Homo sapiens: one gene and its partners. The protein of the gene in region 4 interacts with the protein of the main gene of each other region in a pairwise test. Each region holds a gene or a part of one and is shown on either strand. Other genes may lie near its edges.

Region 1 (7,360 bases), on a different chromosome or scaffold from region 4:
AAAATTAATCTCCAGTGAGGTCTGACTTCAAAGCCCATGTTCTTTTCATTACATTGCTAGGTAATCTTAGACAAGATATTTAGCTGCTCTAAACCTCACATTCCTCATCTGTAAAATGGGATAATAATGCCCACCTTAAACAGGTGTTGTCAAGATTAAATGATTACTCTTTTTAAAATATCTAACATATAATAATCATTCTACAAATATCAATTTCTTCCTCTCCCTCAATTACTAAGTGGTGAGTTCTAAGACCTAGCAAAACTTGAGAGAAAAATGCATCAAGGTGTCATTTTTTCCCTTTTAATCTTGCCTTAGTTTTTTTTTCCTGCCCTACAAGAGGTGAGAATTATATTGTTGAGGGAGACCAGACATTCTAAGAACCACGTGTTAGTCGTCCAGCCCACTTTACCAGGGAGAAAAAAGAAACAGGAACTGTCTGGTGGACACATTTCCACCAAGGGCCCCCACTACTTGGCACAGGGCCCAGCACTTTGTAGGGCCCCAATAAATGTGTGAGCAAGAAAGAAGGAAAGGAACAGAGAGAGAGAAAAGGAGGGATGGGTGGAAAAGAAAGGAAAAGAAGATTGAAAGTGATTGGGACTTTTCTTCTACCATAGAGCTCCAAGAGCAGGGTTCTTGACAGGCACAGGATGAAGAAAATTGATGTGTATCTCAAGAAACACCTTCCCATACTGAATTTAGCAGTGTCTGCATCAAAAGACATATAATTCTTCATTGACTCCTTTCACTGAATAAGAAGAAATGGAAAGAAACAGACCAGGAAAATATATCAATTTCTAGAACAAGGCACTGGGCTACAGTTAACACAGAAGATTAACAATTAAGAGTTGCCAGTTTTGTCTTCAGTAGGAATGATGATCAATAAAACATCATGACGTTTGAAGGGGAGGACTCTATAGTAGAAACACAGAGACATTAATTCATCCTATGTGGGACATCAGGAAAGTTGCTCCACAGGCTGGAGCTGAGCTTTTGCATCTGTAAAATGTGGGAGTTGGTTCATATTAGTGGTTCTCAACATCAGCTGTTCATTAGAATCACCAGAGGGGTTTCTGAAAGTGCCCATGCTCTAGCCATAGCCCAGACATTAGCATCTTGGAAGGTGGAGCCCCAGACATCAGTAGTTTCAAAGCTTCCCAGGTGATCCCAATGTGCAGATAAACTTGAGAACTACTGATCCAGGTGATTTCTGGACCCTCACTACCCCTAGTGTGGTCCTCAGACAAGCAGCATGGGTGTCGCTTGAGATCTTTTTAGTAATTAAGATTCTCAGACCTTACCTCAGACCTAAATAAACAGAATCTGCATTTTAACAAGATCCCCAGGCAACCTGTACTGACATTAAATCTTGAAAACACTGGCCTAGGCACTCTTCTATGCAGCTCTTTCTTCTGACAATGCTTTGCTTTTGGTGCTGATATTACAATAATTTTTAGATCTCAGTGCCTGGCACATTGTAAGTGTTAAAAGTTTTATACGTGTGTCATGTATATGTATTCAGAAAGCACAGAAATATCCCATCACACCTGTTCCACACAGGGGGTTAAGTGGAAATAGATTGGAAGAAAATGTAGCCCTGTAAAAGGCACGGACGATTTTATGAGATTCTGATCAAAGATTGTTTTTTCTCTGTAGAATGATGAAGTAGGGTCCCCTAAAGATCAGTTTCCAGGTTCCTCTTCAAAGTCAGCAACACCAGTGCAGTTACTAAAAACAACTGCCTCCATGTGGCAATTTGTATCCAACATCTTCTCACCTGGCAACACATCATTTGCAGGTTCCTTCTCTGTTGCTCATATTATGTGACAGCTCTTTTGTTCACAGCTCCCCCAGGAAATAATAGGTGGGTTGGCTGGGGAGTGTTTGACCTCCCCCAAAGTTTCCTGTTGTAATGTCCATTACCTCCTTTAAGCCTACAAAAGAGAATTCAGCTGACAAAGAAAAAGCACAAAGCATCAAAATACTGAAACTAAAGCTAGAAAGTTACAGATAATGTCAATGCAAGATGTTATTCTGACTTTGTAACTCAGGACTAAGAAGGCAGATAGCCCTCACATTTTAGACTAATCATGTTTAGTTAGGACTTTTTTGAGTAATGGTTTATTTGGAGGAGGGAGTGATTAGTATCCAAATGTTAAGGGAGAAGTGGCATGGGCAAAAATCCATAATTTTTAATTCGATTCAAGTTCCAGATATTAGGTAGCTGCCAATGTCATGCCACTACCCGTATCCCCTCAGGCCTTACATTTCAGTAGGACCTTCAACAGTCAGTATCACTAGCCATTTGCCTGAGGGCTTTCTTTGGCTGTAAGCCCCACTCTGTCTTCAGCACAGAAGACTGAGTTCTAGGATCAGTACCACAGTTGAAGCTTTCAGGTAATGAGTGAATGGAAGTGGTGTATAAATACCCAGTTCCCTTGCCTTTTAGGTAAAATCATTTGGAGATGCTTGTTCTATGCTGGCTCTGGGAGATCCCCAGCAGCATGAACCTCCAGTTGCTCACAATGATAACTTAATATATGCCTGATATTGTCTTCTTTCCCAACTCATTTCCTCACTCACCTACCCATGTTCTCTGTACCTCCAGAATAAACTACTTTTACTTGAATCCTTGCCTCAGGGCCTGCTTGTGGGGAAACCCACAACAAGACAAATTTTATATTCCATTTTCTTTAAGATCCTCACAGGTATAGAGTTCATAACTTATATTATTTTCTTTTAGTTTTAATATTTCAGTAAATAAAATAAGTTATGGTATGAAGAGTTCAAAGTGTTTTGATGACAACCTTGAAGAGCTCATCTTATTACCTTATTCATGATACTCATCTGACATGTGAATCTGCCAATACGTGAGAAGATGAGAAAAGAGATTGATATAACAGCAGCAGAGCCCAATGGGGAAAAGCCCTGGTTTCCAGTTCTGGTTCTATACTTGTTAGCTGTATGACCTTGGTCGGGCAAGCTGCTTAACCTCTCCGACTCAGTTTCTTGACACTTCAAACATGGGGGAACTAATGGTCTCCATCCACAGGCTTGTGGATGTTCAATCAGATAACATATGTGTTTAGGACAAGGTCTGACACTATTAATTACGAGCAGCTCAATGGTCTAACTAGTTACCCAAGAATACTGAATCCATGGGGATACCTTCAACTGTAAAATAGAAGTCCCAACTAAACATGGCTTGCACCAATAAGAACATCTATTACAATGTAAAGCAAGATTCTGCAGCAAGAATCTCCCCCCTCCCTACTTCTCACATTTCATTGGCCAGAATTAAGGCATATGCCTATAAAACCATGAATCAAGCTTCCAATCAAGATAAACCTCCTCTTTCTCTGTATCCTTTTTCATTTCATTTCTCACACTGGGCCACTGTGTGTCAGAGGACTATCACAATAAGCCTCAGTAGATTGGCTGGTGCCGGGCAACCTTAGCTGAGCTCATTCATATACGTGTGGATTGGGTAATATACATGAGGCTCCACCGAGTAGCTCTGCTTCAAGCTATAGATCTGCAGGTTGACGAGGTAGCTTTTTCACCTGTTTCTCATTCGCCTTGGACCACCAGGCTAGGTGGTGCAAGGTCTTCTCATGTCCATGATAGAGGGTCAGGTGTGTTAAGACCTAGGCTTGGAACTGGAACACTGCAACTTTTCTGCCCTTAAACCATTGATCAAACAAGTCACACGGCCAAGTCCAAAGCCAAGGTGTGGGGTCATAGTGTCTGCCTACCATGAAGCCAAAGGGTGTGGACGTAGGAAGGACAGAAAGGGATCAGTCATTCATTCTAATGTAACACGTTGTCAGAACAAAGAATGTGTCAGTACCCAAATGGATCTGAATTCATATAGCATTCATGTTTCTGCCATGAATTTCTGCACTGGTTACTATATTGGGATGTCATCTGGGGTCCCATGTAAGTAAGCTGTTGCAAATGGGCCTGAGAGATTACTTGCCAAATGACAGGGTTGCCCAGGACTTAGTGACCTTCCAGCTCTAGCATCCCATTATTTGCAGTTTGTAGAAGAAAACCGGGAGAACGTGAAAACCCAAAGAGAAGTGAGGGATCATGTCTTAGGAACCTGCATCCTTCCATCCTGCTTCGACTTCTCAACTAAATTCTTAAGTCCTGGAGTGCAGGTATCACCGAAATTTGCCCCATGCCTGAAATACATGGTAGTAGATGGTGACTCTGACAAGCGTGAAGTGACCTGAATCTGGGGGAAGTTTCTGGGTGAACAGAGAGCGCGGAGGATGCGCGGGTCATGCTGGAGGCGGGTCCCAGCCAGATGTGCACAGCCCGCCCCGCCCTCCCTCGCTCACCCCGTCCAGCTTCATCCGCAGAGGAGCCTCGGCCAGGCTTGCCAGGGCGCCCCCAGCCCCTCCCCAGGCCGCGAGCGCCCCTGCCGCGGTGCCTGGCCTCCCCTCCCAGACTGCAGGGACAGCACCCGGTAACTGCGAGTGGAGCGGAGGACCCGAGCGGCTGAGGAGAGAGGAGGCGGCGGCTTAGCTGCTACGGGGTCCGGCCGGCGCCCTCCCGAGGGGGGCTCAGGAGGAGGAAGGAGGACCCGTGCGAGAATGCCTCTGCCCTGGAGCCTTGCGCTCCCGCTGCTGCTCTCCTGGGTGGCAGGTGGTTTCGGGAACGCGGCCAGGTGAGTGTCTGACTGGCGATTGGCTTCCCCCCACCCCCGGCCTGAGGTCCCGCTTTGGGGCCCCATGTCTTTGCAGGCACCCCCGCGTGTATGGGTGTGAGTGTGCACGTGTGCCTGTGCGCGCTGCGACGGGATTTAACCTGGATACCAGGCCGGGAGCGCCCACGGGCTTTCCTCCCTGCTCTCCTGTGGCGGGGCTTTGCACCTAGTTAGCTCCTTTTGCATCAGCTGTGCCCCACCTGGCTGCGTCCGGAGGGTTGCAGGAGGAGGGAGGCTCTGCACGCAGACCCGTGGGTGCGTGCGGGCTTGATGGTCTGCAGACCTGCTGTAGGGGCAGGTGTGTGAGGGTTGGTATGCGTGTCGGTGGGTGGGTTCTGTGTCTGTGCGGTTTTGTGTTTTCCACTCTATTCACAGGACACCAAGTGCTTGTCAGTCGCTAGTTTTGCTGGGGAAGGAGGGAAAGAAACCGAGGACGATAAAGCATTTACTGTTCTTGAGCTGAGCCAGCCGGGCTGCTCTCCTCACTGCTCTCTGATTAGGGTTGATGAACTGGAAAGAAAGGACACGGTTGTCAGATGACAACCATTCTCATTCTTGCTATGGCAATGCAGACTCTGAAGCCGTTCCCTACTGCCCTTAAGCTTAGCTGAGACCTGAAATATTTTTTCCAGAGATCGGCAAAGACGCTTAGTAAATGCACGCTTACATGGTGACTGTCGACCTGGCACTGTTCTAAGCACTTCAGGACTATTAACCTACCCAAAGCCATAATGGCTCTGTGTGTAAGGTACTATTATCATCATCTCCGTGTTGTAGAAGAGAAAAACGAGGCACAGAGAGGTAAAGTAATTTGCCTGAGGAAGCATAGCCAGTAAGAGATGGAGCCAGGGTGCAAACCTAGGTATTCTGGCCCAAAGTCTGTTCTTCACCAGGGCACTAGGGCAGCCTTCCGGCAACGGAAGAGGTTTTCTGGTTCTCTAACTGTGATGTCTTGCTTTCTACTTAGGTGTCCACTAGAATATGGTTTTTCCACCGCAGCATTATTGACCTTTCGGGCTGGGCTGGATAATTATTTGTTGGGGTGATGGGCTGCCCTGTGCATTGTAGGATGTTTAGCAGCACCTGTGGCCTCTACTCACTAGATACTAGTAGCAACCTTGACCCCACCCCACCCCCCACCACCACCACCACCACCAAGTTGTGGCAACAAAAAAAAGGTTTGGGATATTGCCCAAGGTCCCTGGAGGGCACAATTGCTCCTAGCGGAGACTGCTGAACTATAGAAATTTTTCAGTGATGATTCCTGAGGAGAGTAGGATAAGAGCTTTGGTTTGGTACAGGCTTCTCGAAGGTTTGCCTATCTTTGTTTGACTTACAGGAAAAAATATTTCATCAGAGTTAGCCATGGTATTAAAGGATTTCGAAGTTAAAACAGAACAAACCTCAAACCAGGTTCTTAGAATGTATGATCGCAAGTTTCAATTTCCTTTTCATGATAAAAATGTAAGCAGATGCAATTTGCTCATAATCACATTTTCCTTGAATGCTAGAGGTTCTTGCGTTGCTAGAAAGCCCACTTAAAAAAGACCAAATGCTGTTTGGAGATGAGATTAATAGTTCTTTAGCGGCCAGCAAACTGACCTCCAGGAGCTTCACTTTCAAAGTGCCACCAAATTAAATTAAAAGCCAAAAGCCCCTGGATAAACCAAAGCATATTAAACTGGAGAATCCATGTCAGGATTCTGCAATTCTGCAGTTTTCAAGATGTGAACCATGGTTTCTTTAGACGATTATCAAGTTTATGAGCTGGTGTGTTTATTATTTGCTCAATGTGCTTGGAAATGTCAAGTGGTCAGCTCTTCAGGAATGTCCAGGACCCATGTTTAATCAGCTCTAGATTCCACATTATGGATAAGACACTGTTACAGAGAAGGCAAGGCACCCATTGCAGAAAACTGTGTCTACTGGTTATTTCCTGGGGTTTCACAACTTATAGGAAAAACTGTGGCTGCTGTATAGAGATTTCCAGTATAAGCATCAGTTCTTTTTAATTGAAACACTGCACTATGATTTTATAACCTAGAAAATTATGTGCTTCTTAAATGGTATTTAGTGCATAGTACACAATTAACGCTCATCAAATGAATAAATCATTAGCTCCATGCATGTACCTGCCCTTAAGCTTCAGAATTTGGCTTGCCTTATATTTTTTATGTCCTTTGGGTATTGGAACTATTTAGATACCCTAGACCTGTCCAATACAGCAAAGATGGTAACCAGGAGCCCCAAGTGGCTATTGAATACCTGAAATGTGACCAGTCCAAGTTGAGATGTGCTGCAAAAAGTATCAAATACACATCTAATTTTCAAAAAAAAGAACAGGAACTATCTCACTAATCATTTGATATTGATTACATGTTGAAATGGTAATGTGGATATACTGCATTAGATAAAATTGTTATTAAGATTAATTGCTTCTGTTTCTTTAGCATTTAAAAAATGTGGCTACTAGAAAATTTTAAATGGCATATATGGATATTTATTTCTATTGGACAGTGCTGGTCTAGAACACTTATTGATCTGAACTCCATCTCGAGTGTTCTAAGTCCTAACACTGGGATCTTTTTGCCTTGAGTACCTAAGATAAATATATTATTAACTTTGCTATTCTGGAGATTAACG
Region 2 (7,384 bases), on a different chromosome or scaffold from region 4:
TAACTCCCAACCCTGCCTGGAAATACATGTTAGGAGGGCACTCCCTGCCCCGGAGTCACCCTTTCTGCTGTCTCACCTCCACCAACCCATCCCCGCCCTCAGCATTCAAGGCCTGTGAAGGTCCTCTTGGTCTTTGATGCCTTTCACACCAATTGCCCTTCATGTCACTGTGACCCTGTGTTATGGGCTAAATGTGCCCCCTCCATTACTCCTCATTTCATGTTTGAAGTCCTAACCTCCAGTACCTCAGAATGTGACTGAGTTTAAAGGCAGGGTCACCAGGCCCAGGGATAAGATGGCCATTAACAAGCCAAAGAGAGAGGCCTCAGAAGAAACCAACTCTACTAATACCTTATCTCAGACCTCTAGCCTCCAGAACTGTGAGGAAATACATTTCTGCTTAACCTACTCAGTATGTGGTACTTTCCTATGGCCACTCTAGCAAATGAATACACCCTGGAACTCACAGAATACTTTATTTCTTTTGTTGTAGTTCAACTCCAGAAGCACCATGTGGGGACAAGGTGTTCCCATTCCACCTCGGGAGTAGAGGCCAGGGGAAGGAAAGGCAGTAGGGCCAAAGCTATCACTGTAGGAAGCTCATGAGATAGGGACCCATCTGCCCAGCTCTCCTGAATCCTGGAGCCTCGCCAGAGCTCCCTCTTGCATCTGCAATTCCACCTGCCTGGAATGCCCATCTCTATAGGTCTTCTCTGTCTTGCAAGGCCCAATTTAGGGCTTCCTACTTCTCCCCTTCCTCTCTCACTTCCTGTTCCAGCCCATACTGAACTGCAACAGCTTAATCCTGACCCCTTGCTGGCCTCAAGTTTGGGTCCTGGGCTGTCTGTGTCCTGTGGCCAAGCAGCCGCCTGCTTCTTTGCTCAGTAATGCTATGATGTAGTCTCCCAATTCCCAGCCTGCTCTGGACTCAGCTGTTGTGCCTAGGTCTTGCAGCTCCCTCATGGCTGACCACTGCCTCACCATCAGAAAGCCCCAAGGTAGGCTGCTTTATGCTTTTGTATTTTACTTACTACAAATTGTGTTCGGGCAGTTTTGCAGGTTGTAGGCCTTCCCATACTTTCTTTCTTGTGTTTGTTTTGAGACAGAGTCTTGCTCTGTCACCCAGGCTGGAGTGCAGTCGTGCAATCTTGGCTCACTGCAACCTCCACCTCCCAGGTTCAAGCGATTGTCTTGCCTCAGCCTCCCTAGTAGCTGGGACTACAGCCACACGCCACCACACCCAGCTAATTTTTGTATTTTTAGTAGAGGTGGAGTTTCACTATATTAGCCAGGTTGGTCTTGAACTCCTGACCTCAAGTGATCCGCCCGCCTTGGCCTCCAAAAGTGCTGGGATTACAGGCGTGAGCCACCATGCCCAGCTTTGCCCAAAATTTCTCTATCTCTGTCCAGGTGACCTCAAGATGGTCTTCCAGGCTGGGCGCAGTGGCTCTTGTCTGTAATCCCAGCACTTTGGGAGGCTGAGACAGGCAGATTGCTTGAGCCTAGGAGTTCAAGACCAGCCTGGGCAACATGGCAAAAACCCATCTCTACAAAAAATACAAGAAAAAATTAGCCAGGCCTGGTGGCACACGCCTGTACTCCAGCCACTAGGGAGGCTGAGGTTGGAGAATTGAGTGAGCTCAGGAGGCCAAGGCTGCAGTGAGCCGACATCACACCATTGCACTCTGGCCTGGGCAAACAGAGCAAGACTCTGTCTCAAAGAAAAAAAAGTCTTCCAGAAACAAGCTCTTCTAAGATGCTGGAAGAACTGGCAAAATTTTTCTTTCTCTTTAAATAAATTATTTGCAAGGTCTTATATTTTATTTTTTTTAAACTGTGGTAAAATATACCTAACAAAGTTTACAATTTTTCTTTTTTTTTTTTGAGACAGAGTTTCGCTCTTTGTTGCCCAGGCTGGAGTGCAATGGCACAAATCTTGGCTCACCGCGACCTCCGCTTCCCGGGTTCAGCGATTCTCCTGCCTCAGCCTCCCGAGTAGCTGGGATTACAGGCATGCACCATCAGGCCCGGCTAATTTTGCATTTTTAGTAGAGATGGGGTTTCTCCCTGTTGGTCAGGCTGGTCTTGAACTCCCAAATCAGGCGATCCACTCGCCTTGGCCTCCCAAAGTGCTGGAATTACAGGTGTGAGCTACCGTGCCCAGCCACAAAGTTTACAATTTCAAGCATACAGTTCAGTGGCATTAAATTGTTCAGATTGTTATACAGCCATTAAACAGTAACTCTCCATTCTCCCCTCCCCTAGCCCAACAGACACCATTCTACTTTCTGTCTCCATAACTCTGACTAACTAGGTATCTCAGATAAGCAGAATACAGTATTTGTCCTTTTGCAACTGGCTTATTTCACTTAGCATAATGTCTTCAGGGTTCATTCATGTTGCAGCATGTAACAGAATTTCATTCCTTTTTAAGGCTGAATAATATTCCATTGTATGTACACACATCATCTTTATTCATGCATCCATCCATCACTGCATGGATTGCTTCTCTTTTGGCTACTGTGAAATGGTACTGCTATGAACATTCATGTAATTTCATTTTCTTCTGCTCTAACTCCAACTGGAATGAAGCTAGGCCCTTGACTAAGTCTTGAAAGGGTTTGAGGTCTCACAACAAAGGGACCTGGGCTCTACCTTGTGGGTGAAGCCTGTCTTAGAATCCCAGATCCCACCCACATCCCACGGTCTCCATAATTTTTCTTTTTCTTTTCTTTTTTTTTTTTTTAACACATGGTTTCACTTTTGTCGCCCAGGCTGGAGTACAATGGCACAATCACGGCTCACTGCAACCTCTGCCTCCCGGGCTCAAGGTTCCTCCCGCCTCAGCCTCCTGAGTAGCTGGGACTACAGGCGTACATGAGCCACCATGTCCTGCTAATTTTTATATTTTTTGTAGGGACGGGGTTTGGCCATGTGGGCTAGGCTGGTCTTGAACTCCCGGGCTTAAGCGATCCGCCCGCCTCGGCCTCCCAAAGTGATGGGATTACAAGCGTGAACCACCGCACCCGGCATCGTGGTCTCCACATTTCATCCAGAACGAGTCAAAGGCCTTGACCTCGAGCTTAACACGGACCTGAACCTTTGCTCTTCCCTTGTTTTCCCTTATCAGTAAACAGCCCCACAGCCACCCACCTGCACAAGCCAGAAGCTTGGAAATCATATTCGACGTCCTCATGCCCTTACATCCATCCATTCCAAGTTCTGATACTTTTGTCTCCAAAATATTCCTCAAATATTTCTCAAAGTGGGCAAAATATTTCTTTGCTCACTTTTTACTTCCCTCTGCTCCAAGCCACAATCACCTGTCTCCTGGAAGACTACAAAAGGCTCACTGATCTCCCAGCTCGCACTTTTGCACTCACTATCTCCAGGCCATTCTCTGTTATTTCTATTGTTACTATTATTATTTTGAGACGGAGTCTCGCTCTGTCGCTCAGGCTGGAGAGCAGTGGCAAGATCTAGGCTCACCGCAATCTCCGCCTCCCAGGTCAAGCGATTGAACCTCCAGCCTCAGCCTCCCGAGTAGCCTATTATTTATTTCTAAAAGTAGGTGATACAGCCATATGATTTAACAATTCCTGCTCTATAGGTCCCCTCTCCAGAGGCAACAGGTGCTCTCCATTCCGTGGTCTCCTTCCAGATACTGTGGGCGTCCCTGGGTGCTCACCTGGCCGTATACCTTCCCCCACCCACTTCCCCACAGGGCCCGGGGCCTCCTCACTCCGCTTGAGACCCTCCATCCAGGCGCTCCCTCCCTATCGTCCGTCTCCCTTGGGCACTGCCCGGCCTCCCAGGCTGGGCTGAGTAGGCCAGTCTCCGGTCAGTGATTCTGTTCCAAAGCTCGAAAGCCTTCGCAGCACTGGGACTGAAACCCCCAGCTCTCAGCCCCGACTCCTTCAGGCCAGGTGCTCCCTCCGCACCCTCTCTAAGGCCCGTTTTCGCGTCATCTCTTTCCAGCGGCCCGCCCGCCACGTCATCTCTACCACAGCACCAGTCCTCCACGGCTCTTGACAATACGTGGGAGGGCAAGTTCATAGGTGAGGTCTCATGCTCTTCCTAGGAGGGAGGAGCGCGGCGGGCGGGACCCGCAGCTGGGCTTGGCCCGGGAGCGGGGAATAAGCTCGCTCCGCGCCTCTCAGTTTAGTGGATGAAGACTACTATCCCAGAAGCCGTTTCGCCTCGGGCTGGCGAGCTCCTCCCCGCCCTACTCCCTCCGCGCGAAGAAGACTGAGCATGCGCAACAGGGACAGCGCCTGCGCAAAAGACTACGCGAGCGGGTGGCTGGGTTCACTGCAACTCCCGGCAGGCCGCTGGCATTTTTCATTCCCTCCCGTGACCAGTGACTTCCGGCACGAAGGGGCGGGGCTGGGCTCGTGGCTGAGCCAGCAGCTGCAGCAGCTACGGGAGTGGCCGGGTGGCCGGCGGGTGCCAGCCGCCATGGAGGCCGTGCCCCGCATGCCCATGATCTGGCTGGACCTGAAGGAGGCCGGTGACTTTCACTTCCAGCCAGCTGTGAAGAAGGTGAGCTTGCCTTCCATCTTCCCCCCTATCCGCCGCGTATCTCCGTCGTCTGCAAGCGCGTGACGCCCCCCTGCGCGCCCATCACCTCCTCAGGCCCGGTCGCAGGGTCCGGTGAGGCCAGGAGGGGCCTTCGCCGGTTTTCCTCAGCCTGTCCCACACCCCGGCGCCCGCAGGCCATTCTTCTCCTCCCCGATAGCCCCGTGCTAGCACCTGCATCTTCATCTGAACCCGGTTCCCGACTTCTGCCCCGAGTCATCCGCTGTTCCCACTGAGGCAGCACACTTCCTCCTTCTGACGCTCGGACCCAGTTCTGCCCCGCCCCTCCTCCATGCCAGGACCGCCCCGCGCGGGAGCGGTGGGCGGCCCTGACCGTGCGGATTCTTTTGCTGCGCCCGGCCCTCGGTGCGCTGTCAAGTCCACGCCCGCCTGGGACAGACACTGGGGATGGCTCAGGGGCGTGTGTTTAAGACGTGAGCCCCGGTGGCCCAGGGAGATGCCCGACCCCTGCGGTGAGGGTTTGTTTTACAATTGCTGCGATTCTGTATGGTCTCCCATTCGGGAGTCTCTTTGGACCAAACAATACAATCCCACGACATTTTTAGGAGGGTTACTGCTTTTCGTAACCGACTGGAGGGCATAAACAGTGTTGTAGAGCTCAGAGAAATCTTACTGTGTTGGAAGAACAGACGGGCAGGTTTGGCGTTGACTAAGGCAAGGAACTTCTGTGGAGAGGTTCAGGTGTGGTGATTGAACACAGGTGCCCTCCGAGACATCCGCTGTATTGGTAGCACTGAGGGCTAGAGCAGAAATGAAAAGGAACAACCAGGAGGCCGTCGCAGGTGGGGGGCCTTGTGGGCTTAGCACAGCAGATGCCAGAGTAAGCCCCAATCTAGATGGTGCACCACTTAGCGAGACGCTTGGGAAGACAAATAGGAAAAAGAAAATGGGTTTGGAAGTAGTTTCCCAAGAAGCTGTCTCCCCTCTAATCGCCATACACCATTGCCTTAGTTCAGACAGTGTTTGAGTCCATCATCTAGCCTCTTGGGGCCAGGAAATGAGGGTAATTGATCCAAAATTCTAGAATTTTGTTAACGGTTATCCAGACGTTGCTCTCTTCTTCATCTGCTGTTTCTTTTTCCTACCTTTTTTTTTTTTTTTGAGACGGAGTTTCGCTCTTGTTGCCCAGGCTGGAGTGCAATGGCACGATCTCGGCTCACCGCAACGTCAGCCTCCCGGGTTTAAGCGATTCTCCTGCCTCAGCCTTCCAAGTAGCTGGAATTACAGGCATGCGCCACCATGCCCGGCTAATTTTGTATTTTTATTAGAGATGGGGTTTTGCCATGTTGGTCAGACTGGTCTCGAACTCCTGACATCAGGTGATCCGCTTGCCTCGGCCTCCCAAAGTGCTGGGATTACAGGCCTTCATCTGCTGTTTCATACAAATACAATTGGATGAATTTTTCTAAGACACAACAGAACTCCTGTTTTCTTTTTCTTTTCTTTTTTTTTTTTTTTTTTTTTTTTTTGAGACGGAGTCTCACTCTGTCACCCAGGCTGGAGTGCAGTGGCGCAATCTCAGCTCACTGCAAGCTCCGCCTCCCGGGTTCACGCCATTCTCCTGCCTCAGCCTCCCAAGTAGCTGGGACTACAGGCACCCGCCACCACCCCTGCCTAATTTTTTGTATTTTTAGTGGAGAGGGGGTTTCATCGTGTTAGCCAGGATAGTCTCGATCTCCCGACCCGTGATCCACCCACCTTGGCCTCCCAAAGTGCTGGGATTATAGGCATGAGCCACCGCGCCTGGCCAAAACTCCTGTTTTCTGTTTTACAGAATAGATCCGGTATCTTTTTTTTGGAGACGGAGTCTTGGAATAGAGCCAGTATCTTTAGTTTTCCATTAGAGTTCTTCCAGACTTATCCCACTTCTTTCAGCATTTATTGAGTCCCCACTGTGTGCTTCATCTACTGTGTGCATCTGATAGAGGTACCCTAGATTCTGTTCTCAGTCACTTGCTGTTTCCTTACCATACTCTGTTTCCTCTTCTGTGCCGTTGGTCATGGAATTCCTCCTGCCTAGAAGAGGTCTCATTTTGCCCTGTGGGGTGGTGAGGTGCCCTTCTTCAATCTCCGTGAATTCCATTTTCTTGTCTCCCATCCAACTTTCAAGGTCTACTTAAGCTCTCCTTTCTGCAGAGCCTTTCTTAATCTTTCTACCTGGATTAATCTTTCTCTTCTCTTAATTCCTTAACTCTTTTCATCCTTTCCCTGGTGACAGTTATGTATGCTGTGTTTTAACCCCCCTGTTCAAGTGTGTGTTACCTGAGAAGCATCTCTGTGTTCCCCAGAGCCTAACAGTGTACCCTCTACATAGTTGGCAGTCAGAAAAATATTTCTCAAATGATTGAATTACAGCTGAGCGGAAATTTAGAGATGGTGACCATAAATATATGGGAATGCAGTAGATAAAATCTTGGCCCAGAAACTCCTAGGAAGTATTTTTGTTTGAACTTAGCCTTTGCTGCTCTGACGATTCACACCGACCCAAAGGGTATTGTGTGACCAGTGACTTCCCTCCATGCACCTGGGCCTCCAGGAGAGGAGTTGCTCATTAGCCCTTTAGCCCGAGGTGGTATCAGATATGAAACAATTACTCCTATAGACACTGGAGGAGACTGTGCAGACACCACTGCAGCCTGGGGACTCTTCCCAACCTGCACCCCCTTCCCCAACTGCAGAGCCCCTTCTCTGCCTTCTGCCACTGGCACCCTTGTCCTGCTTTATGCTTGCTCTGAGCTGTGGGAACCTCTGCCAGTGAATTGGAGCTGAGGGTTAGAATTTAATT
Region 3 (7,022 bases), on a different chromosome or scaffold from region 4:
AAAATAATTTACTTTGAAATGGAAAGAATTGACTGCAGTAGGGAGTTTGGGCACATCTCTGCACTGGAAATTGTCCTTAGGAGACAAATTTGATATACTCAGCTGTGTGCTCTAGCGGTGGAAAACTGAGAAGGCTCCATCCATTTCTAGTGAGTGAATGGATTTGATCACTAGTGAGAAGAATTGCGGAGATTTTCTGAGAGACTTTCAGCAATGCAAGAGAACATAAGGACGTTTTACTTCTAGATGTGAAGAAAATGACTGAAACTTTAGAAATATGAGACAGATTTAGTTGAACATTAGATTGTTGGGGGGAGTGTAACTTACCATCAAAATCCTGTTTAAATTGCAAATTTATAGTGGTTAGAAGCCATGTGATGTGTATCATACTGCTTTCTATATATGGCATTCAGTAACTCAGTATTAATGTAAATGAGGATTATGACAGTTGTGATGGAAAAATTTAAACTTGACATTCATTCAGAATTGTTTGTAGTATAGCACAATTACGTAATTGAGCAATTAAGATTCTTTTTCTTACGTTCTCCAGGACTAACATGTTTCCAGCCAGAGGCAGATCAGATGGTTGAAAAAGTGATCGGATGAATGTGGTAGGGGTTTTGGGAGGCATCTCGATGGCTGGCCTTGCAGATTTCTCCTCTCCATCCAGGCCTGCACCTCTCGCTTCCTCAAGTGGAGAAGGTTCCAGGCCAACGGCCATCTTCATTCCTAGCCGGGACTCTTGTCCTGAATCTCCATCTGTTCTTCTCCCTTAATGGGGTGGGTCAGCAGTGGATGAAGACCCATCTTAACTCAAGCCCGTAGTAGAAACAGCTGTTAAGTTGCCTCCTGTCAGCAGTGGATGGGCTGGGTCAGCAGTGGATGAGGACCCATCTTAACTCAAGCCCGTAGTAGAAACAGCTGTAAGTTGCCTCCTGTCCTACCTAGGCCTCCCTCAGCCCTCTGAGATCAGATGGAGCACTTTCTGCAGGCAGCAGACCCTGCTGAGTCCTCTTGGCCAATCTGAAAAATAGGAGCCTCTGGCCTCTGTGCTGTCCTGATGTCTGCTGCTGTGTTTGTCTAGGTCCTGTGCCTGTTCCTGAGCTCCCTTCCACCTGGGCTTGGCAGGTACAGAGAGGCGGGGAGCAGCATTTGGTAATGACTAGTTCAGCCCTGTCCACCTGCAGACGGGCATTTATTTCTTTACCATCCCTCAGAGTTCCATGGGCTGTTTACATATGAGGGTGAAAAAGTAATATGTGTACAAAATTCAAAAATTCAAATGATACCAAAGGACAGAGTGAACAGTTAAACTCTCAGCCCCCCTCCCACCCCTCGCTGCTGTTTACCTTCTCAAGAGGCAGCCGCTGTTTCCAGCAGTTTGCCGTGTAGGGCTCATGGCTGGTGCCCACCAGGCAGGCAGGTGCCCCACACGTGCATGCTTCTTAGGGGGTGTTTGCACAGCACCAAATGCTGCTGGGCTCCATGGGGTGGCATGTTGTGGGGTGAATTGTCCCATCTTCTTTTCTGGATTTTTAAAAATACTTTTAAATATGGAGATGAAACAGTTGTCTTATTATTTTGTTTAAAAGACATTTTTCTGCTTAGAGTTCCACTCAGGTGTTTCTGAAGTCTTGAATCCTTTTATAGAGATGTCTCATACATAAGGTGATTTTAGAGATGGGTGTGCCCAAGCTCTTGATTTTGACTTATTTCAATTCTAAACTCCCTTATTTATTACTAAATCCAAAATCTGTTACCCTTGCAGGTCATATAATCTTTGCAATTTGGAATCTGTTTAAGTGAAAGATACATGTTAGAATATGTTTGAGATTTTGGTATAGTTCTGATATGTGTTAAATTCCTAGAATTTTATTTAAATTTTAAATGCTTTTAATAGGGTTAAAAGTTGTATGGATTGAGTTAAGTAAAATCTATTTTTACTGATTTCCATGACCATAAGAAGTTGGTTTCAAATTTTTGTTGCTTGAGCATGTTGAACAAAATTCATTGTATAATGTGTATCTCTTGTTGTATTCAGTGCCCTATAGGATATTAAAAAAATAACTTACTCTGCTTGGTGGGCATCTGCTGGTCACCGTCCTTCTCCTACTCCTCAGCGTACACAGAACTCTCAGCTTATTCCCTGTCATTGTGAAGCAGAAAGAGCTAGAAGACAAATAGTCTGGTTTGAATTCTTTTTTTCTAGCTTGAAATATTTTTGTGTCCCCCATGAAGACTCAGTCATTTTTGAGGAAGCATCATTTCCCAGCTCTAATGATGAGTCCTTAGTTGGGAGGAACATCACCATTTAAACAGCCCCGGTGGTGTCTTAGCTGGCCTCCTTTTCCATAGCATGCCAGTGCACATAGCAAGTTGACAGTGGAGCGAAAGGCTCTTGGACTCACAGCTTGGGTCATGCTGCTTTCATCTGGAAGGTGATCCACTGAGAACCTTTGTTTACTAGACTCTGGGCTGTAAGACAAGAGGAAATGGGAAGTGGCAGCTGTGGCGAGAAGGTTTGAGGTGAGGCTGAGCCCGATTACCAGATGCCTTCACCACCTGTCATTCCTCAGTGCATTCCTGGGCCAGGAGAGGGTCTGCGGAGCTGATGCAGGCGATGGGCAGTGGAGTGGTGCCGCAGCACGGTGCAGGGAGCACCAAGGCTTAGCTACCAGGTGTGCACAGGACTCCCATGCCCTGCTCTGGCAAACACATCAGCCGTCTGAGTCTTTGTCACTTTAATTCGTTAGTTTACTCCATTTTACTGATGTAGTTTCAAATTTTGGTGGTCTCAATATATGAATTTACTTTACGATATTGGCGTTACAAAATAAATACAAAAGAAAATGCAGTATTGTTTTTGCAGTTTCCAATCATTTGCTGTGTCTACTTAGTTGAATATTGTTAATAAATAGGATATGCCATTCTCTTGACTAAGAAATTATCATTCATCTGTTTCAGGAACTGTTGATAATGTTTCACCTAACTTTTGTTTTGTAGATCTTACAGACTCTTTCAGCACCTACGAAAAATTTAGAACAGCAGGTGAATCACAGCCAGCAGGGACATACAAATGCCAATGCAGTGCTGTTTAGCCAAGTGAAAGTGACTCCAGAGACACACATGCTACAGCAGCAGCAGCAGGCCCAGCAGCAGCAGCAGCAGCACCCGGTTTTACACCTTCAGCCCCAGCAGATAATGCAGCTCCAGCAGCAGCAGCAGCAGCAGATCTCTCAGCAACCTTACCCCCAGCAGCCGCCGCATCCATTTTCACAGCAACAGCAGCAGCAGCAGCAAGCCCATCCGCATCAGTTTTCACAGCAACAGCTACAGTTTCCACAGCAACAGTTGCATCCTCCACAGCAGCTGCATCGCCCTCAGCAGCAGCTCCAGCCCTTTCAGCAGCAGCATGCCCTGCAGCAGCAGTTCCATCAGCTGCAGCAGCACCAGCTCCAGCAGCAGCAGCTTGCCCAGCTCCAGCAGCAGCACAGCCTGCTCCAGCAGCAGCAGCAACAGCAGATTCAGCAGCAGCAGCTCCAGCGCATGCACCAGCAGCAGCAGCAGCAGCAGATGCAAAGTCAGACAGCGCCACACTTGAGTCAGACGTCACAGGCGCTGCAGCATCAGGTTCCACCTCAGCAGCCCCCGCAGCAGCAGCAGCAACAGCAGCCACCACCATCGCCTCAGCAGCATCAGCTTTTTGGACATGATCCAGCAGTGGAGAGTTAGTAATGGAGATTATTTTTCCTCTCTCCTAAAAGTCTTGTACCCACATAAATGCTTTGAGAGTGTTTGAGTGTGGGGTGAGGATTCATATCAAAACAATTACTACAAAATGGAGAGTGTGAGTCTCATACCTAACAAAGAATATAGTTACCATGGGATAATTATGCTTTCTTTTGTACTTTGGGACATCATATCCTGAAGTGAATATTGGTGTCCCGTAGAACATCTAGGCTGCCACAGGGACTCATTCAGGGTATTTAATGGCCAGGCATGAGTTACCTTGGTTTTAGTTTTTAATGATCATTTGATGTAGACAGTTAAATAGTATCTTCGTAGCAATATTCCCTATGCACTCTGATTACTGGCAGATACGTCATGGTCAAGACTGATAAACATAACAGATTGACATTGTGAGGCGCCACTTTTTAACTTTTGTGCAAGCATATTCATAGGGTTTTAATTTTCTTTTTCTTATGTAATTTTACTCTAGTTCCAGAAGAAGGCTTCTTATTGGGATGTGTGTTTGCAATTGCGGATTATCCAGAGCAGATGTCTGATAAGCAACTGCTGGCCACCTGGAAAAGGGTGAGATTGTGCCTGGAGGAAGGATGACTGTGTCTGAAGATGCTTCTTTCTTATGTAGATGTAACTGTGTTCACTTAGCTGCATTCACTGAGCTGCACCTGCACGTGTTCTGAATGTGTGACGGGCATTTTGATTAACATTCTGTGTGACCTGAGGCACAGCACTTTTCTGGGCATCAGTTTTCTCAGCTGTTAGATGAAGATGGTGGACTTTTTATTTTTTTCAGCTTGGAAATTCCAGGGGGCACTAATTATATGTGTATAATTGGGGCAATGGAAATAAGTTCAGGGTTTTGGTGTCCTGGGAGAGGGACTATTAATTTGTATGCATCTCAGTCATTTCTCTTTCTCCAAAGGTAACTGTTAGAAAATCCTGGAATCTCTAGAACCTCAAATTCTTCCAGCCCAATTGTGAAACTGGAGTTAATTTAATTATGTATTATCATGCATGGTGGCCTTTAAAGAAAAGAAATACTTTTTCTTGCATTCCCCAAAACAAAACTGAGTCAAAAAATTTTTTTTATAAAAACCGAGTTTAAATATGCCTCTAATATATCTTGAATGTGCTTCACTATAAACATCCCTAGTGCTTAAATCCCTGCTATGTGCCAAGCATGCTGCAAGACTTAGGGAATATGTGCGAAATCACAGAGACGGAGAAAACGGAAGAGCAGTGCGAGAGGCAGCCACACGGCTAAGCAGAGGTGGGGTGGCAAATGCAGGCTGTTGTGAGAGCCTGAGAAAGGACCTTCACCCATCGTGTTGTGGGGTGATGTGTTAAGAAAAGTCTGCTGGGAGAGGTGATTCCTGAACTGCTTATAGGATGAGTAGGAGTGAGAATTAGGGGGGAGGATTTTCCAAATAGTGCAGCACAGCCAAAGGCATGTGATTGGTGAAACTGACAGGAGGGTGCAAAGGAGGGTGCCTCAGTGGGATCCACGAGGCAGGGGTTGGGGCAGGAGCCAGGGCTGGTGTGTCTTCCAAGACCTTGTTGGTGTGCCATGTGGTGAAGTTTAGATGCAGGTGAAGTGATCAGCTGTGCATTTTAAATAGTAAAGGGTTGAATCTGAGGGTGACCAGGGAGATGACTGTGTGGCTGGCTGAGGAAAGAGGCGGATGGCATGTGCCAGGGTGAGGAAGGAAGGGAGCAGTTCTGAGAAGGACAGCAGCAGAGATTTTTTAAAAGTCAGAAGTGTTCGAAGGCAGCACTGAGAAACTGTCTTGAGAAGTACAACAAAACTCAAAGATACAAAAGTTAGTGGAGAAAAGTTTGGGGTTTTTGTCTTGTTTTCAAGTTAAAAGATTTATCCAAGAGGTCTAACATTAAATAGGATCTTGGGAACAGAGAAAATGAAGGCAAGAACATTATGAAAGAAAATAGCTTTGCAACTGAAGGCCATGTGCCCTCAGGTTGAAAAGAAATGTAAGGAGAGCCATGATAAGGCAACTGGGAACATTCACAATGCTGGTAGAGAAAACTGTTTTCTCTCAAAGACAAGCTCACTGGAGGGGAAACGTGGACAGATCAGGAGTCTGGGTGATTTCGGGAGCCTCCAGTGCAGTGCGCGGGGGCCAGCAATGGAGCAGCTTCTTCCATTTTTGAGGGAAAATAATTTCCAACCTAAAATAACCTATAGAGCCTATCAGTCATAAGACTATGGAAGGAGGATATTTGTAGACTAATGGTAAAAAATGTACCTCCCTTATATTCTTTCTTAGGAAGCCACTATGCCAGCAGAGAGTGAAACATGGTAGCCAGGAAATGAGGCATTTGACTCAGAGATTGAAAGAGAGTTCCTAGGATGGAGGTAAAGGGAAACGCCAATAGATGAGAAAGTAGGTGTCGAGAGAACTAGACCTGGGACCGGAAGAGAGACTTCCAGGAGGAGCAAGCAAACGAAAACACTGGTAGATTGAGGAGAGACATGTACCGCTGACCCCTGAACAGTGTGGGGCCTAGGGGTGCTCACCCCCATGCAATCAGAGATCTGTACATCACTTTTGATTCCCGAAAACCCAAATTACTAATAGCCTGGTGTTAACCAGAAGCCTTACTGATAAACAGGCAATTAACGCATATTTTGTATATGTATTACCATATTCTTACAATAAAGTAAGCTAAAGAAAAGAAAATGTTATTAAGAAAATCATAAGGAAGAGAAAATATATGTACTATTCATTAAGGGGAAGTATATCATCATAAAGGTCTTCATCCTCGTCGTTTTCACGATGAGTGGGCCTAGGAGGAGGAGGGACAGGAGGGGCTGGTCTTACTCCCTCAGGGGTGGCAGAGGTGGAAGAAAATCCAGCTATCAGTGGACCCACACAGTTCACACCTGTGTTGCTTAAGTATAGGTGATACTACATTCATTTTCTCTTGCTGTGTAACAGATTATCTCAAAACCCAGTGGCTTAAAACAATAAACATTACCTCTCAGTTTGGTCGTGGGTCAGAAATCCTGCAACAGCTTGGCAGGGCGGTTGTGGCTCAGCTATCTCCTGAGGTTGCAGTCAGGATGCCAGCGGAGGCTGCAGGAGCCCCTTCCAGGATGGTTCCGTCACATGGCTGTGGGCTGGAGGCCTCAGCTCCTCACCACAGAGGCTCTCCAGAGGGCTGGTTGTGTGTCTTCACAGCATGACAGCTGGCTCCCTTCCCCAGGGGGTGTGACCCAAGATAGAGGGAAAACCCGCAGCGTTATGGTGTCTTTT
Region 4 (7,780 bases):
GAAGAGTTATAAAGACCCTGCACTCAAAGAGGTAAGCATGTCTATGGTACATATTAGGCCAAATACAACACAATCAGGGCTGAGGCTTCAAAAATAAAGAGAGGACACGAGGGTAAAAGGATGGGGAAAGACTTCAAAGGAAAAACACTGCAAATGGGCACTGGAGGTGGCAGGATTTTGTGGGGAAGTCAGAACTATTTCAATCTGCAATGGAAATAGTGATGATGGTACAGATGAAGAGTCTAACATGAGTCACCCACTTGGTTAAGCACTTTCTTCTCCTCTGTGATTGGGTTAAAAGGGTTTATCTAAGTGAAAAGGAAGTTTTTGCAGGGAGAGGCCCCTGTACTTTGGGGGGAGGAGGGCTATATGGGAGAGAAGGAAAGGTGGGAAAGGTGGCCATCCCCGGCAGAAAGACCCACACATCCACTTCAAAAGAGGTTAAAAAAAAATGCTTCTCTCTGTGTATCTGTTGGAGAGTGGGTGGTAGGTGACAAAACTGGAAGCAAGGAAACAAAGATGGTCTTTCCCTTGATTTCTCATCTCTAGGAAAGGGCGTGTTAGCCCTGCCTGAGCTAGGTGGGTGTTCAATGCTACTGGGGCGCATCCAAAGGCACAAAATCTTATGTTAAGCGCCACTCACCCTGGAAAAACTGGGTCCTGCGCAATCGAGGTTTTAGTATCTGGTGAAGGCTTTTGAACATCAGATCCAATGTGGTCAGAAGAAAGCATCAGTGTCAATGATACATTGTTCATTCTTTTATTCATTCATTCATTCATTCAAACCTCTTCTATTTATTAACACTGACTAGAGGCTCTACCCTGAATTGAGGCTAAAGGCTGGAGTAGAAAAAGTAAGGATAAGTCACTTCCCTTCATTGCCTCTGTTTTCCTATCTCTAAAATAAGAAGTTGGAGTTTAATGCCTTTGCTTTGCAATGTTTCTTATGCTTAACGAGCTTACACATGAAGTCAGGAGTAGTTTGCCCCGGTATGAGCCAGAGGCACAGAGACAGGGGTTGAAGCTCAGAAAGATGAATGCTGCTGCTTTTCCTCTGCCTCCTTGAAGCTAGGGACCCTCTGAAAGGTGCCAGGGATGCAGCAGCTCTGTGCAAATGAGAGGTCTGGTATTTGCCAGAAGCTTTACCATAATGCAAGGAGAAATAGTGCATGAATGATGTGATGGGATTATTGCTGACCACGAATTTACTGCCCAATTAGTGAGGTGATATTTTGTGGGGGTTTCATTTAATTGGGACTTTCCTGAGCAGATCTAGGTTTATTTAACAGTTTACATTGATTTTTATCTCGGGAGACTAGGGCAGCATGCTGAATTACCACAACCTTTTACCAAACAAAGCTCTTCCTCGTTGACTTTTGATTCCCCTTTCCCTGCATTGTGCTTCTGCATTTCTCTCCAAAGCCTCTGTTGAAGATTCTTTGCAACCAAAGATGGCATCCATGCTTAGAATTGTTCAGTGTCTGGGGTATTTGTTCCTCTGTATTCAAGTAACAATAAATGTCCCTAGGAAGATTTTTTTTTCAAATTACTCGTCTGGAAACCCCTTGGGATTCAAGGTCCAGCCCATACATGCCTCGATACTTCCCCTTCTCAATCCCAGCATCTCCTACCATGATGCTTGCTAGTAGGAGGAGCTTAACAAATTTCTTCAAAGGTGACATCTCAAAGGTCTTTACAGGCATAAATTGTGGCTTCAATACAAATGCTGGGTTTAGATGATGTATCAGTCTGTTTTTACGCTGCTGATAAAGACATACCTGAGACTGGGCAATTTACAAAAGAAAGAAGTTTAATTGGATTCACAGTTCCACCTGGCTGGGGAGGCCTGACAATCATGGCAGAAGGTGAAAGGCACCTCTCACATGGCAGCAGACAAGAGAAGAGAGCTTGTGCAGGGAAACTCCTGTTTGTTTTTTTTTTCTTTTATTATTATATTTTAAGTTTTAGGGTACATGTGCACATTGTGCAGGTTAGTTACATATGTATACATGTGCCATGCTGGTGTGCTGCACCCATTAACTCGTCATCTAGCATTAGGTTTATCTCCCAGTGCTATCCCTCCCCCCTCCCCCCACCCCACAACAGTCCCCAGAGTGTGATGTTCCCCTTCCTGTGTCCATGTGATCTCATTGTTCAATTCCCACCTATGAGTGAGAATATGCGGTGTTTGGTTTTTTGTTCTTGCGATAGTTTACTGAGAATGATGATTTCCAATTTCATCCATGTCCCTACAAAGGACATGAACTCATCATTTTTTATGGCTGCATAGTATTCCATGGTGTATATGTGCCACATTTTCTTAATCCAGTCTATCATTGTTGGACATTTGGGTTGGTTCCAAGTCTTTGCTATTGTGAATAATGCCGCAATAAACATACGTGTGCATGTGTCTTTATAGCAGCATGATTTATAGTCCTTTGGGTATATACCCAGTAATGGGATGGCTGGGTCAAATGGTATTTCTAGTTCTAGATCCCTGAGGAATCGCCACACTGACTTCCACAATGGTTGAACTAGACACTCCTGTTTTTAAAACCATCAGATCTTGTAAGACTCATTCACTACCACGAGAACAGTGTAGGAAAGACCCACCCCCATAATTCAATCACTCCCACTGGGTTCCTCCCACGACACGTGGGAATTGTGAGAGTTACAATTCAAGATGAGATTTGGGTGGGGACACAGCCAAACCATATAAGATGAGGTGCAGAGGATGCCTGGGCGACTAAATCAATGGTTTCCAAAGGATTTAATGTAATGCCCTTAAGTAGTTTTTTTCTCCCAAGGTAGTTTCTTTGAAGTTAAGCAGCATGAGACTTCCAGGTTGGTGGATGAAGAACCAGGGAAAGATAGAAACTGCCTTTTTTATAATGTAGGGCTCAGTTAAGTATTCAAAGTTCCAAGGAGGCAATTCAGGCCCCCATTTCACACCTTTCACTGTTAGAGAGCAGAGCTCCTATCCATCCCAGGCCCTTCCACTTTGTAGATCAATTGCTCTATCTTTTGGCAGCTTCAACAAAGCCCTGTCTTATGAAAATGCTTTATTGTTCAGATCAGGGACCTGGTAGTAAAAATTAACTATAAAATACTTTTTTTTCTATTATGCAAGTAATGGGTAGCCTTTTTAAAAATTGGAAACATAGAGAAAAAAGTTTATTCCTAACAACCGGAGCCTCAGTGGATTAAAATTACTCAGGTTTCTCACTGATGCTACATGCCCATTGAACGTCAGGTGGGGACTCTGCACTGCTTTAGTCTCACTCTGGATACTGGCTGACAGACCACAGCTTTCTAGAATATTGCGGCCGAGGAAAAGAAAGCTTTGCGGCATCTCATACATCTCATATTGCTGCTGCAGAAGTGACAGTCACTTTTCCTCTTAAACCTCTAGTCAAAACTTGTAACCATGCCTCCACTTAACAAGAGGTTTGGAAAGTGCAATTCTGCCATGTAGGGAAAGGTATATGAACAGTGGTAAGGGCTACCACACTGGAGAATAGCTCCTTTCATCTGCCTCCCTTTGCAGCCTGCGTCCCTAGTCCATGCGCTCTACTGCTCCAGTGCCCACCACTGCTTGACTCTGCCTTTGTGTGTGTCAGTTCACATTATCAAGAAGGACCATGACTGGTAGCTCTACGGATGGAGGACCCTTTTGTAGCAGGTGTTCACCCTGTGCCCAAGCCGCAGTGCCTAGAAGAGTGGGGATGGGTCTGTGGCTCCTATCAGGCTGCAGGAGTTGCGGAGACAGAAAAAGTATTTCTAGGACTCCCATTTGGCCTTGCAGTCTCTACACATCCTTGGCAATTTCTCCCATCTTGGCTTCTCCTTCTTATCACTTTGGTCCACATACGGGGACAGCGTCTAAGTTCTTTCTGACCACCTCCTCAGTCCTAGAAAAACCAGACTTGGTTAAGTACCAGAGCACAGAAGGCATTTAGTGCTGCTCTGCTCCCAAGTCATCTATTAGTTTCACTTTAGCCAGCCATACCTCCTTGGTTACATATGAAGCATCTGTATATAACTTAGTATCATGCTTTTTCACATTATATTTTGATTTTTATCGGACCGGAAACCCTAAATCCACAAGCATAACAACAAGATCACATTTGGGCTTTTTCATTTCTGTAACCAGAGGATTGAACGCTAGTTTTGTAGTAAGACTTCAATTCTATTTATCCGTCCAGGCTTAAGGGTTCCTGTTCTTCTTTTTAAGTCATTAAATTGTATCAGACAAGGGGGAAAACGCGTGTGTGACTTTCCCTAAGGTAAGATGGGCTTAAGGGATATTGAAACCAGGGCAGAGAAATGTTTTCTGTGACCCACCAGTCAGGGCAAGGCATAGAAGGAGCAATGACTTATTCATTAGCCCAGATAGAAGGCCAGTCTTTTTCAGGCTGCGGCGCAGAGACGCCAGGCTCAAAGGGCAGGAGGGCCGTCTGCAGGCAGCGCCGCCGCGGCTACCTGGAAGCCCAGCAAGTCACCTGAGTCCTGCGGGTGCCTGGGCTGCCAATCTGCAGCGACCCGTCCGCAGCCCCCGGGGGCAGGAACACCAACCCCGGGACAGGAGGACGTCCTCGGCCCGCTGACTAGGGATCCGCCAGCGGGTGCCGCTGAGCCACATCCCCGCAGTTGGCGCCAGCATCCAGGTACCGCGCGCCACAGCACCTGCCTGGGCGTTCCCGCGCTTGGGGCGGGGCTTCCCGCGTCCCCTTTAAGAGGCCGCATCACCCGCCCTTGACGTCAGAGTGTTTCTCCGCAAGAGCCCGTGTCCCGCTAGGCTCCGCGCCCTCGCGCCCATAGCCCCGGCGGCGGCACGACCAGAGGCGGCCAGGGGAGCGCGCCGCCCCGCTCGGCCCTCCAGTCCCCCTCCGCCTCCTCCCTCCCGCACAGCAGCCGCCAGCGCGGCCTCCTGCACCATGTCGGTGGCCGGCCTCAAGAAGCAGTTCCATAAAGCCACTCAGGTAAGGCGCGCGGCAGGTGCGTCCCGGGGCAGTCCGGGGCGAAGCTGCGAGGGGCGCGCTCGGCGCTGGCCGTCCGGCGGCAGCTTGGGGAGTTCGGCACCGAGCCTCGCCCGCGCCGGCCGCGCCCCGCCTCGCAAGCCAAGGCGGCGGCTCGGGGCATCCCCGGTCTGGGCGTCCACCCTCGGTCCCCCGCCCCCGGCTTGGTGCGCGCTGCCTTCCCGCGGGTCCCCGGCGTCCTGCCTGGTAGCGCTGCTCGCCGCCCCCGCATCATCTCGCGCCCGTGCTGCAGGAAGGGGACCGCGGCTGCACTGCTGCCGCGGCGCGCAGGTGCCTTGGCGGCGCGGTGGGAGATTATGTAAAGTCGCCTCTTCACGGGTGACCTTGCGGAGTCGGTGCACCCGGCTTTCCCGGGATGTGTTGGCATGAGCGGTGGCCGCACTGGGGGTGGCGGGGCGGAGGCCGGCGGTTTGCGCTCCTCTCCCTTACCCTGTTGTCAGAACCCTCCTTCCCCGCCGCCCGCAGGCTCCAGGGGAATGGAAGGCTGGGGTCTTCCTTTAGGGACCCGCATACATTAACTTTTACCTGGAGAACTCGGTCGTGAAACTCCTTTGAGGCCAGGGCATGACAAACAGTCTGCGGGTCTTAAATATTTCCCTAAAACAACCAAATTGTTGAAGACTTAAAATCATCATGTATTTTAAATTGTTTTTAATAAATCTTTGGCATCTTGGATGTGCCCATTTTTCTTTATGGGGTTAATAAGCTGTGACTGTAATAAAACTGATTAATTTAGATTCTAATAATTAAAATCATTGGACTCAAAGAATTTTACATAGGGGCAAGTAAGCGAATACTTACGCTGTGACCTATTTCTTACATAATGTGTGTGATTACTACTTTTTTATCCTTCTGAAATAGGTTCAAATTTATGGGATCTTTAAGGATTTTGATGACTTACCGCGAAATGTTTTTCATGATTTGGTGTTAAATAGTTTTTCATAGGTTAGCCTTAATTAACGAGCTTTCTCATAATTTCTCGGAAGTAGTGAGGTTTTTCCTAGGCTACCACAGTGGCAGCCTTGTTATGAACCACATCCAGAAAAGGTGAGGGTTGTGTTTTACAGAACCTTGGTTAACTTAGGGTGACAGATGCAGCATGTAATTCCCGTCGTGTGTGTGTTTGCACGCATCTGCATCATCTTCATCACACATTCTTGCCTTTATAGAATCAATTATACCTGTCAACTTAGGAAATCAAGAAAAGTAAGACTATTTCTGTAAAAATGTTTCTTAATGTAATTATTTTTGCTTTTCTATTATAATTGGAGTTATCTGTGACCTCTCTGCCAGACATGTTTATGAAAGTAAGTGATTTGTTTGTTGATGTAGTTTGGAAGGCTTCTAATAACTTTATACTGCAAGTTCTTTCAGGTTTACAGAACCAAGCATATGTGCTGCCCAGGAATTCTGTGGCAGGACTTCTTCGATATTACTAACCTTTTTGATTGCTCTACTGGTCACTTCTCTATAGCATATCTCAGCACTGCGTTTACCAACACATCTTTTTTCCACTTGGATTCTAAAGATTTCTTTTGCAAAGCTTAGTGCCCTCAAAGGCAATTAAGAGTCTTGGCTTTGGAGTGGGAAAGGCTAAGGTTTGAATCCTGCCTCTGCTGCTTCTGACCTTGAGAGAGTATTTAACTTCTGAACCTGTCCATGCTGAAGTGATGATAATTTCCGTTGTCTCTTCAGGGTTGAGGTGAAGAGAAACGAGTGTGTAGAACACACGTATAAAGTGTTCAATAAATTATAGTTATTGACATAAAGGATATTTTTATTAGTATAAAATACTATCCCTTATGCTGTGAAGAAGTTACCCAAGCTAGACCTTTTAGTTTTTCCAACTTAAAAAATAGAGCGCTCCATTTCCGCTAAATCTTGAAGTTCTGTGTCGCCCTAAAGTGTAGAAAAAATAATTTAAACTGCGTTAGGAAAGAACTTAAAAGGTTGGAGAAGGTCGGCATGTGATGCGATACGGTTAATGTTTATCACACCGAATCCAAATGCAGAATCACTGCGTCATTGTCTTCCTTTTACTGAAAAGCCTTTTATTTGAAAGGTGAAGCAGCACGTAGTCTCTTATCCATAATTTAGTGTAGCACACTCTTAGAAAGTCTAAGGCACAGGTGACTGTTCTGTGCATATGTATATTTAGGAGAGTATGTAAAGCCCATGTTAATGTTTGCATGTGACAAAAAAATTAGAGAAATAGTCCTGTCCTACTTTTGTAGCCATTTTTTTCCATCAGGTCCGTGAACCTGATGTTATCTACAGAGAAGCTTTAGACCTAGAATTACTTCCTTTTGAGAACTGATGTGCTGGATAATATAGCCTGGGTTTGTTTGTTTGTTTATTTATTTATTCATTTGAGACAAAGTTTGACTCTTGTCGCCCAGGCAGGAGTGCAATGGCGTGATCTCAGCATACTGCAACCTCTGCCTCCTGTGTTCAGGCGATTCTCCTGCCTCAGCCTCCTGAGTAGCTGGGATTATAGGCATGCACTACCACGCTCAGCTAATTTTTGTATTTTTAGTAGAGACAGGGTTTAGCCATGTTAACCAGGCTGGTCTCGAACTCCTGACCTCAGGTGATCTGCCCGCCTCGATTACAGGCTGAGCCCCCGCACCTGGCCTATAGCCTGGGTTTATAAGTGGAAGGAGTCTGTTCACGCAAACGTTTCTTTCTATGGAATTGAGCTTTTTTGCTTGTGTTAGTAAGCGATGATAAATAAAACAGTA

What was found.
Region 1: the proteins of SH3GL2 (region 4) and EGFL6 interact in a two-hybrid assay, tested with the Homo sapiens proteins (2 studies listed by BioGRID and IntAct).
Region 2: the proteins of SH3GL2 (region 4) and PTPN23 interact in a two-hybrid assay, tested with the Homo sapiens proteins (one study listed by BioGRID and IntAct).
Region 3: the proteins of SH3GL2 (region 4) and PAXIP1 interact in a two-hybrid assay, tested with the Homo sapiens proteins (one study listed by BioGRID and IntAct).

What each region holds. Positions count from the first base shown.
Region 1 is NC_000023.11:13,565,258-13,572,617, forward strand, and holds the start of EGFL6 (epidermal growth factor-like protein 6 isoform 1 precursor), read left to right. Parts: upstream 1-4,343; 5' UTR 4,344-4,604; coding exon 4,605-4,678; intron 4,679-7,360.
Region 2 is NC_000003.12:47,376,639-47,384,022, forward strand, and holds the start of PTPN23 (tyrosine-protein phosphatase non-receptor type 23), read left to right. Parts: upstream 1-4,382; 5' UTR 4,383-4,458; coding exon 4,459-4,542; exon of another isoform or gene 4,543-4,854; intron 4,855-7,384. UniProt on the Homo sapiens protein: Plays a role in sorting of endocytic ubiquitinated cargos into multivesicular bodies (MVBs) via its interaction with the ESCRT-I complex (endosomal sorting complex required for transport I), and possibly also other ESCRT complexes.
Region 3 is NC_000007.14:154,965,108-154,972,129, reverse strand, and holds part of PAXIP1 (PAX-interacting protein 1), read left to right. Parts: exon of another isoform or gene 1-923; intron 924-2,041; exon of another isoform or gene 2,042-2,076; intron 2,077-3,003; coding exon 3,004-3,727; intron 3,728-4,219; coding exon 4,220-4,314; intron 4,315-7,022.
Region 4 is NC_000009.12:17,574,306-17,582,085, forward strand, and holds the start of SH3GL2 (endophilin-A1), read left to right. Parts: upstream 1-4,760; 5' UTR 4,761-4,937; coding exon 4,938-4,982; intron 4,983-7,780. UniProt on the Homo sapiens protein: Implicated in synaptic vesicle endocytosis. May recruit other proteins to membranes with high curvature. Required for BDNF-dependent dendrite outgrowth.